Linked DNA regions of Homo sapiens. The protein of the gene in region 1 purifies or fractionates together with the protein of each later gene. This does not show direct contact. Each region holds a gene or a part of one and is shown on either strand. Other genes may lie near its edges.

Evidence for each region. The genes of interacting proteins can lie anywhere in the genome.
Region 2: the proteins of NFXL1 (region 1) and SNX21 purify together in Homo sapiens (co-immunoprecipitation; one large-scale study listed by IntAct). This does not show direct contact.

The regions. Positions count from the first base shown.
Region 1 is NC_000004.12:47,886,503-47,891,459, reverse strand, and holds part of NFXL1 (NF-X1-type zinc finger protein NFXL1), read left to right. Parts: intron 1-756; coding exon 757-847; intron 848-4,957.
Region 2 is NC_000020.11:45,839,297-45,844,242, forward strand, and holds the end of SNX21 (sorting nexin-21), read left to right. Parts: intron 1-183; exon of another isoform or gene 184-1,009; coding exon of another isoform or gene 1,010-1,162; intron 1,163-1,342; coding exon 1,343-2,017; 3' UTR 2,018-2,541; coding exon of another isoform or gene 2,542-2,660; 3' UTR 2,661-2,736; coding exon of another isoform or gene 2,737-2,747; 3' UTR 2,748-3,980; downstream 3,981-4,946. Other genes in the region: ACOT8 (acyl-coenzyme A thioesterase 8), read right to left, coding at 2,542-2,660, 4,231-4,425. UniProt on the Homo sapiens protein: Binds to membranes enriched in phosphatidylinositol 3-phosphate (PtdIns(P3)) and phosphatidylinositol 4,5-bisphosphate. May be involved in several stages of intracellular trafficking.

The sequences.
Region 1 (4,957 bases):
CTCTTCTTTAATCTCTTAATCTATGGTTTGAAAATAACTGCCAAACGAAGCCAGGAGCAGTGGCTTATGTCTATAATCCAAGTACTTTGGGAGGCCAAGGCAGGCAGATCGCTTGAGCTCAGGAGTTTGAGAGCAGCCTGGGCAACATGGCAAAACTCCATCTCTACCAAAAATACACAAACTACTGAGGTGTGGTGGGGAGAGCATGTAGAACTAGGTACTCAGAAGGCTGAGGTGTGAGGATGGCTTGAGCCTGGGAGGTGGAGGTTGCAGTCAGTCAAGACTGTGCCATTACACTCTAACCTGAGACAGAGCCAGACTCTGTCTCAAGAAAAAAAAAAAAAAGAAAAAAAGAAAAAGAAAATAAATAACTGCCAAATGAATCTATACGTTGAATTTGATTTTAATTAAATTTTTTTTAAAAACCAGACTAATTGTTTTCCTGAATTGACATTCCTTTGGTTAATGTTGTTAGTCTCTGCATAGATAAAGGAATGAAATTATCTGATGGAAATGTTTTGAATCATAGAATAATTAACTGAAAGTCAGGAAAATTTAGCTTGATTTGTTAAATTAGGTCATCATAAGTTCTTAGTGAAGTATGTTTACTTACCAGAAGAATGTTGATATTCTTGAATACTTCTTTTAGTGAAAAGTGTATCTTTTGCTTTCCATAAGTTCTGTAACTAGTAATGACATGCCTATTATTCATGGGTTTTTGAATTACCTGTTCTTTATATATTGCTTTCTCTTCAGTGTTGCCCTGGAAACTGTCCACCTTGTGATCAAAACTGTGGACGGACTTTAGGATGTAGAAACCATAAGTGTCCATCTGTCTGTCACAGAGGTAAACTTTAATAATAGCTATGATTTTATGTTTGTAGTGATGTAGTGGTTTTTTTTTTCATTGTCAATATTCAATATAATGTATTGAAATAGCGTTTTATAGTCATTATCTCACTTGACTCTCTTAACCTGGAGAAGAAGGTAAGGCAGTTTGCCAGTGTCTCTATTTTATAGGCAAAGAGGTTGAAGCTTAAGAGGGTTCAGTAACTTACTCAGGGAAATGTCTAGTACATTTGAACCCAGGATTTCTGTATATAAAAGTATTGTCCTTTCTATAACACCATATTGTTTTCCCACTTCCTGACTTTCCCCACATAATTTTTTAATCAATGAAGGTGTTCATAGCATTTTGAACACCTTATTTATTCTGAATTTTATATACTTATTTGTAGTTAAATCTAGTAAAGGATTAGATATGTCCGAAGCTGGTGATTTTTAAACATTTTGATGTCATGACCCCTTTACAATCCTTTGGTCCCCAAAGGGCTTTTGTTAATGTGAGTTTTATTCATTGACATTTATTGTATTTGAAATTAAAATAAAATGTAATAATATTTATTATTTTTTAAAAATAGCAGTAATAAACCCATTATATCTTAATACAAATAATGTTTTATGAAAAATAACTATTTTCTGAAAAAAGTAGAAAATTTTACATTTTTACAAATGTCTTTAATGTCTAGCTTAACAGAAAATAGCCGGATTCACATATATGCTTCTGTATTCAGTCTGCTATGGACATCACTTTTCACTAGCTTCTGGAAAACTATGCATGTGAGACCTTGCAGACCTCCTGAAAGGGTCTCAAGAACCACTAGGGTTCCTGGACTATACTTTGAGAATTATGTTATAAGTTATTACTAGACATTAAAAACTGAGTTAACTTCACTCATTTGGATTATGTTGATATGAAATGGAATCTACTGAGATATGGTATACAGTATTGGAAAGATCGTGGACTTAGAGTAAGAAATCCTGGATTTAAGCCTAGACTCTGCCATTTAGTAGTTTAATACCTAGAACAAACTACTGAACTGTTTCTCAGTTGATCTCCCTATCCTTTCAGAAATCCTGCAGCATATAGGGATATGTGGAACAGGCCGGGAGACTATTGGCCCAAGGTTAATAGAACTAGTCGCAGAGTCAGGATGTGAACCCAGTGTTTATGTTATTTCCATTATACTACATTCCTTCCCCATTAGGAAAAGTGTCAGATTCTATTTACCCTGTAGACATTTCCTGTAGGTGTTCTTTGATTTGTCAGTGAAGTTTAGAAATAGTTTTTCAGGTATGCTCTCACCAACACTAGAAAGATTTTATTTTCTTTTATAGTCATTACATCACTGACCCATTGAGTTTTTGCAGATTTTTGCAAACTACATCTCTGTGATATAACTGGTTTAACAGTAGTAAATCTAATATTATGTAATTTACCACATTAAAAGACCAAAGGAGGAATGAGATCATCTTGATAAATGTCTAACATCTATATAAGATAAAAATTTAATTGGAAATAGACATATCCTTAACCTGATAAAGAGTATCTGCAAAAAGTTTAGAGCAAATATCATACTTACTGGAGAAGTGTTGGAAGCATTTCCCTGTCTCATATTTTTGTGAAGCAAAGCCCATAAATATTTCAGTATTTGTCTCTAAAAGATGGATTCTTAACCTAAATGTAGTTAACATATTTCTTCATATCAGCAAACATCTGGTTTTCAAATTTCTTGTTGTCTCATAAGTAACTTCATTTTTTACATCAGTTTATAGACTCAAAAACCTAATAAAATTGACATGTTGTAATTGGTTTTGTCTCTAAAGTCTTTTAATTTATAATTTCCATCCTCTATCTCCTTTTTTCCCCTTATGACTTATTTGTTGAAGAAACTAGGTTGCTTTATTTAGTTTCTCAGAGTCTGAGTTTTGCAGATTGCATCTCTGTGGTATTATTTAACATGTTCCTCTGTCCTCTATATTTTTGATAACCTGTTAATTGGATCTAGAGGTTTGATCAGATTCAGGTTTTGATATTTTTTGGTAGAGTGGTGTTTTTTTGTTTGTTTTGTTTTTATAGATTTCTATTAATCCTTAGAAAAGCTTATTAGTCACAACAAAATTTTCCTTGATGTAAAGTATGTGGAAGATGCTGTTGTGCAACTGTCAATATTTGTTTCATCTACAGTTATAAAAGAATGTGGAATCATAATTTCATACCATTTTTCCATCATTCTAGAATCCTTCATAATCAGAATTATACAGTAATTTATAGGGGGAATATACTAACTGCATGTTTGTGTTGTGGGTATGTGAAAATTTGATTTATAGTTTTGTTTTGTTCTTTGAGACGGAGTCTCTCTCTGTCACCAGGCTGGAGTGCAGTGGCGCAATCCCGGCTCACTGCAACCTCTGACTCCCCATTTCAGGTGATTCTCCTGCCTCAGCCTCCCGAGCAGCTGGCATCACAGGCATATGCCACCATGTCCAGCTAATTTTTGTATTTTTAGTAGAGCCGGGGTTTCACCATGTTGGCTAGGATGGTCTCGATCTCCTGACCTCGTGATCTGCCTGCTTCGGCCTCCCAAAGTGCTGGGATTACAGGCATGAGCCACAGCGCCCAGCCGATTTATAGTTTTTTTTTTTAAATTCAGGATCATCTGTGTTTATAGTTTTAGAACTACCCGAATCATGCCTATTTTGGCTATTAACTGGTATTGGTCAGTATAGTTATAGTCTCCCTATGCTATTTCTTCATTTTGAAAGTATTATGGAAGCTCTTTTAATTATAATAAATTCTGTTGGTCAGTAGGGAGACTGTTTAGAGAAATTGTCCCTTATTTTCAAGATGTAATTTAAATGTGATACTGTTGTTTAGAATAACAAAAAGGTTACGTTTGATAACAAAAAGGTTCCTCTGCTGAAGATGAATGAAAAATTGTCATTGTTAAGTATAGAAACAGATATAATATGCCGAATGAGAACCGACTTAAATATCACTATCAACTTTAAAAATACAACTTGTAGTCATTCTTTAGGTAAAATAAAAATAAAACTTGATATGTGGGTTAGGATAACTTGACTTGCATTAACATCAAGAATATATGTGTCAAAACACATTTGGTGTTTTGTATAATAAATGTTATGTTTGACCCTACGATGTTTTACCTCTAATCTTCTCTTTTTCTGTGTTCATTATTTGAATTATAATTCTTAATTTGTGTTTGTTTTAGGGAACTATTTTGAACTTCTAGAGGCACTTAAGCCAGGATATTGTCCATCTTTAATCTTTTTTTTATCAGGTTAACTCCCGGTCCATGTTTTGCTTGGTCCTGACACCTAGGCAACAGTCTCTTTAAGATATTCATTTCTTCATTGAAAACTCTTCTTCCTTTATTATTTCATTTCTGATAGAGTTCCTTACTGGGAAAACTAGAGTGGAAGAAAGCCCTTAAGATGATGACAGAACCTCTTGGAGCGAACTTTATAGCCTGCTTTAAAGATTTCTTTGATTTTGTTTTTTTATATTTTTGCCAACCCATAACAAAAGAGCGTAAAAAGCTGAAACCAAAATAACATTTTTTTTTATGTTTAGAAGAGAAATATTTGGGATTATATCCTAAAATGGTGGCTTAGTACTTAGTCTTTCACAAAGCACAATTAATGGAAAATTGACTGTGCTTGCTACTAACCAATATCAGGTCATGAGAAAGAAGTTATTGGGAATTCATCTAAAAATTGTGTACTTGGATAGATGTATGAAAGTAGGCCAACGATATTATTGTTAATGTTAAATTTTCCAAAGACTTAAATCCATTTTTGCTTGTTTTAGTTTTGAATGAGTAATGTGTTAAATTTGTTATTTAGAACAGAAGTTTTAGCACATTTTAGAGAAATGTCTAAAACTTTATGAGGTACCAGTGTACAGAGAAAAAAGTGTTATAAATCAGAGGCTGGGTGCAGTGGCTCACGCCTGTACACCCAGCATTTGGGAAGCTGAGGTGGGAAGATTGCTTGAGTCCAGGAGTTTGAGACCAGCCTGGATGACATAGTGAGACCCCTCCATCTCTATAAATAATCAAAAATTAGCTGGGCATGGTGGTGTGTGTCTGTAGTC
Region 2 (4,946 bases), on another chromosome or scaffold:
CAAGGTCAGGAGATCGAGACCATCCTGGCTAACACAGTGAAACCCCGTCTCTACTAAAAAATACAAAAAATTAGCCGGGCGTAGTGGCAGGCGCCTGTAGTCCCAGCTACTCGGGAGGCTGAGGCAGGAGAATGGAGTGAACCCAGGAGGCGGAGCTTGCAGTGAGCCGAGATCGTGCCACTGTACTCCAGCACTCCAGCCTGGGCAACAGAGCGAGACTCCGTCTCAAAAAAAATAAAAAAATAAAAAAACCCCAACAAAACCAAACTGAGAGCTTCTCAATTTGTAGTCAGAAAGATTAAAAAACAATTAGGCTGGGTGTGGTGCTCATGCCTGTAATCTTAGCACTTTGGGAAGCCTAGCTAGGAAGATTGTTCAAGGCCAGGAGTTCAAGGCCAGCCCTAGCAACATAGTGAGACCCCCCCTCATCTCCATACAAAAAAAAAAAAAAAAATTTTTTTAAATAGCTGAGTGTGGTGGTGCATGCCTATAGTCCTAGCTACTTGGGAGGCTGAGGCAGGAGGAATGCTTCAGCCCAGGAGGTTGAAGCTGCAGTAAGCTATGATTGTACCAGTGTACTCCAACCTGGCCAACAGTGAGACCCTGTCTCAAAAAATAATAATTAAAAGGGGACCAACCTCCTGATACAGTGATATTTACTCTAGTGCACACCACCTAAAAACCTCAGGTACCAATACTTGTACATGTCTCATTTTTGGACAAACACTGACTTGACCGAGCACTTCCTTCACTAGAAACAGAAGTGGACCCAGAGGGGGACTCCCTTGCCTGGGTCACACAGAGAAGGAGTAGCTGACCTGGGGTTAGAACTTGAGTCCTAGGCCAGTATACTTTTCACAGTTATGGCAGTTGTGGCTATCTACAGACCTGTCCTCTGGGTCTAGTTTGGAAAAGCCTGACCAGGGATGTGGAGGCCAGGTGTCCAAAGTGGAACAAGCTCCAAGCTGGTCCTAAAGGAGCCCCAAGAGATTGGCTGGGGTTTCAGCTTATGTCTGGTTTTCCAGAGGGGGCTGTCAGAAGAACTAATGCTCTATGGGAAGGGAGTACAAAAAAAGGGGCAGCAGCCCCGGGCACTGAAGCTCATCTCTGTCTTTCTCTCTTCTTGCTGCCTTGGGCCTGGGTCATTTCAGACAAACCTCAGGTAAGATGGGACTGGGCTTCCCCGCCACTGCGCAGCAGCTCCCGCCCTCCTGGGTGCTGTCCCAGGGGTGAAAGGAAGAGGTGGGGAGGTACAGCTGGGAGTGTGGGGGATGGGGAAGGATGGGGAGGGAACGGGCCCGTGGACAACTTGCATTTGCCCTGACACCCACCCTCCCTGCAGCTCTACACCCTCGCCGTGATCGGCCCAGGACCGCCAGATTGCCAGCCAGCCCAGATCTCTCGCCGTTACTCGGACTTTGAGCGGCTGCACCGAAACCTGCAGCGGCAATTCCGGGGCCCAATGGCTGCCATCTCCTTCCCCCGTAAGCGGCTGCGCCGGAATTTTACTGCAGAGACCATTGCCCGCCGTAGCCGGGCCTTTGAGCAGTTTTTGGGTCACCTGCAGGCAGTGCCTGAGCTGCGCCATGCCCCGGACCTGCAGGACTTCTTCGTGCTGCCGGAGCTGCGGCGGGCACAGAGCCTCACCTGTACTGGCCTCTATCGTGAGGCTCTGGCACTCTGGGCCAATGCCTGGCAGCTGCAAGCCCAGCTGGGCACCCCCTCTGGCCCAGACCGCCCCCTGCTGACCCTGGCTGGGCTGGCCGTGTGCCACCAGGAGCTGGAAGACCCTGGAGAGGCCCGGGCATGCTGTGAGAAGGCCCTGCAGCTGCTTGGGGACAAGAGCCTCCACCCTTTGCTGGCACCCTTTCTGGAGGCCCATGTCCGGCTCTCCTGGCGCCTGGGCCTGGACAAACGTCAATCAGAGGCTCGGCTCCAAGCCCTGCAGGAGGCAGGCCTTACCCCCACACCACCCCCCAGTCTCAAAGAATTGCTCATCAAGGAGGTGCTGGACTAACCCTTGCCTAGATTTAAGGCCACTGTGAGGAGAGGGGTTGCCCCAGAAGGCAGGGGAAGGACCTGATGAGAACAGAATAGCTGGGAGGCTGCAGAGGGTGCTGGGAGCCCCTAGAAGTTCCAAAAGAGAATGTGAAGCAGATCAAGGAAACTTCTGTTGAGCTAGGCTCAGGGTGAGCTTTGGCTGGGGTTGCCCTTGTGTAGTACAGGGAAGTCTGACACAGCCTCTCCAGCCTATAAACAGCCGGGGGGCTGTGGCACAGGTTGGGGCAATGTTCCCTTGTTGGTGGGCCCCCAAGCTGGCAAGGCCTCTTGGCTGAAGGCCAGGGACTCTGCCCCTGGAGTCCTGGAGTTAAGGGATGAAGGCAAGGCTGCAGGTCTGGCCCAGGGGAATTAAAAGCCAGCCACTCCAGTGGTATCAGTCTCTTTATTGGATGTGAGGGCCAAAAGGGACTGTAACTCCTGTCTCAGGAATGGGGATAGATGGGAGGTTCTTGAAGCCCCAGGCGAAGCTGGTACCTCTGGCTACAGCTTGCTCTCTGAGACCTGGGGCTTCACTCGGATCACGCCCTCCTGGGCACAGGTCACAGCTAGGACTCCATCCTGACGCCACAGCCGCCCATGGACCAGCCCCCGAGAGCCACCTGTGGGTGAGGTGAAGGGTGATGATGGCCTGCTTCAGAACAGCCAAATACACTTTTTTTTTTTTTCCTGAAACAGAGTCTCACTAAGTTGCCAGGCTGGTCTCAAGCGCCTGGGTTCAAGGGATCCTCCCGCCTCAGCCTCCTGAGCAGCTGGGATTACAGGCGCACATCACCATGCCCAACCTCCAAGTGGACTTCTTGCAAAGGGTCTGGCCCAGGGCAGGGCTGCCCCACACAAGGGTGCACTGAGTGTCGTGGCTGCTCCAAATGCCCCTTCATGAGCTTATTATGGACCGTCATTGAGGGGTAACTCCTCCCACAGGAACCCCAGTTGACAGTTTAAAAGCACTTTCACACCTCTCCTCGCTTCCTCAAAAAGATCACAGAGGGAGGAGCTCTGAGAACAGTCTCCTTCAACAGCTCGGCCAAGCAGAACTGCTGTACCTCTGACCACTTGTGTTAGGAAAACTATCGGCTCCCTGTATAATAAATCAAGCCAGGTCCTCCAAGTGGTAATTCATGAAAAATATCCCCACTACCACCACCAAGGGGAAGAAAGGACTCAGAAGAGAGGACTTGAGGCCATGAGGTCTGGCCTCTTCCCTCCCCATCTGGAGACTCTTTCTCCCTTGCTGGCTTTGGGCCCAAGTTTGATGTTTATGAGGATGATTGCTGGTTTCCCTTACACATAGCAGAGCTCACTCAGTTCTCACAGTAGCCAAATGAAGCAGTTATGTGTTGTCCAGTTTTCCAGACCAGGACTGAAATCCAGAGAGGGTCAGGAATTTGGCCCCATGATGAAGCCAAATCTGAACCCATGTCCTCACTTCAAGGTTATCAATCTTGGATTGTGATGCTATTGGTACTTGAGAATACCCCTTATCTGAGTATAAAGAATCCTTGAGTTTTGTCCTTGGTTTATCAAGCAAAGCTTTTCTTCATTTGAAATGTACTCCCTTGGAAAGGAGGTCAGGGTTCTGAAGCTAGACATTGATGAACGAGTCTTGTTTCTCTCCCCTGCAAGGAAGGTCCAAGCAGGCCCTTAGGGACCACTGAATGCCCCGATCCCAATCAGGTTAATCAGAATCACTTAGAGAACTTAAAAATACAGTTTCCTGGACCTTATCCAAGACCTACTGAGTGAGAATCTTGAGGGTGGAATCAGAATCTATTTTGAAAAGGCATCCCCAAATGGCAGTCTGATGGACTGCGGGTTTGGATACCACTGCTGTAATGTAACCCTCTTTGTTTAGATGAGGAAACTGAGGTTCAGATGGAAGATATGATTTGCCTATTGTAATACAAAGAATCTGAACTGGTTTTGGGACTAGAACTGGGTCCCTGGGAGAAGGTGAATCACATTTCCAGCACATTCTAGAAATTTAGAGCAGAGCAGGTGTCCCGGCCTCACCCTCTCATTTTGAAGATGAAGATGCCAAAGCCTGGGAGGGAAGGAAAGGAAGTGACCTGTGCAGCGCCACACAGGAAGTCGGGAAATCAGCATCACCCAAGAAAGCAGGCTCCTGCCACTCAAGGTCAGTGCCCTTGTCCCACACGGCCCCACACTCACCGGCCCAGGGGCTCTCGCATTCATAGAGCATCCAGTGGTCAGCTCGGAAGGGGGCGTGGAACCACATGGAATGGTCCAGTGAGACCATGAAGTGCACCTTGTGCTGCCACTGGTGAGGCAGCAGTGCAGTGCCCAAGAAGGCATAGTCGGAGATATAGGCGGCCACGCAGCAGTGCATCTTCATGTCGCCCTCGCCTGCAACAGGTCCCCATCAGCCCTGGGCTCCTGGGCTTTCCAGCTCAGGACCTGCACGGAGGTAGGGGGAAAAGGGACTCCCGTGCATGGGTGTGCAGACTGGTTGCTGCACAAGAGCGCTTGGCCTACAGTGTGTGTGTGTGATAGGGGAGAAGTGAGATGGCGACTTGGGGAGGGCAGGGGTGAGCAGGGACTGAAATTCAGTCTTCACCACCCAAGTCTCCCACTCTAGGCCCCAAAAGGGGTGTCTTCTTCCAATTTGCACAAAGATACTTTATAGTTAGCAGCAAAGCTGGACAACAACCCCAGCGAGGTGCCTTTTGCCTTCCTCAGAAAGGCCTTGTGTCGGGATTATAGTCATCTCCACCTTCTCCCCATGCAAAGGGCTGAGAGGGCCCAGGTGAGAAGCTAAGCCAACTTCCCCATCATGCAGATAAGGAAACAGGCCCAGAGAAGGGAACTCATGTGCCCAAGGCCACACAGCAAATGAGTGGTAGACCCCTTGGAGAGTGGTTTCCTCC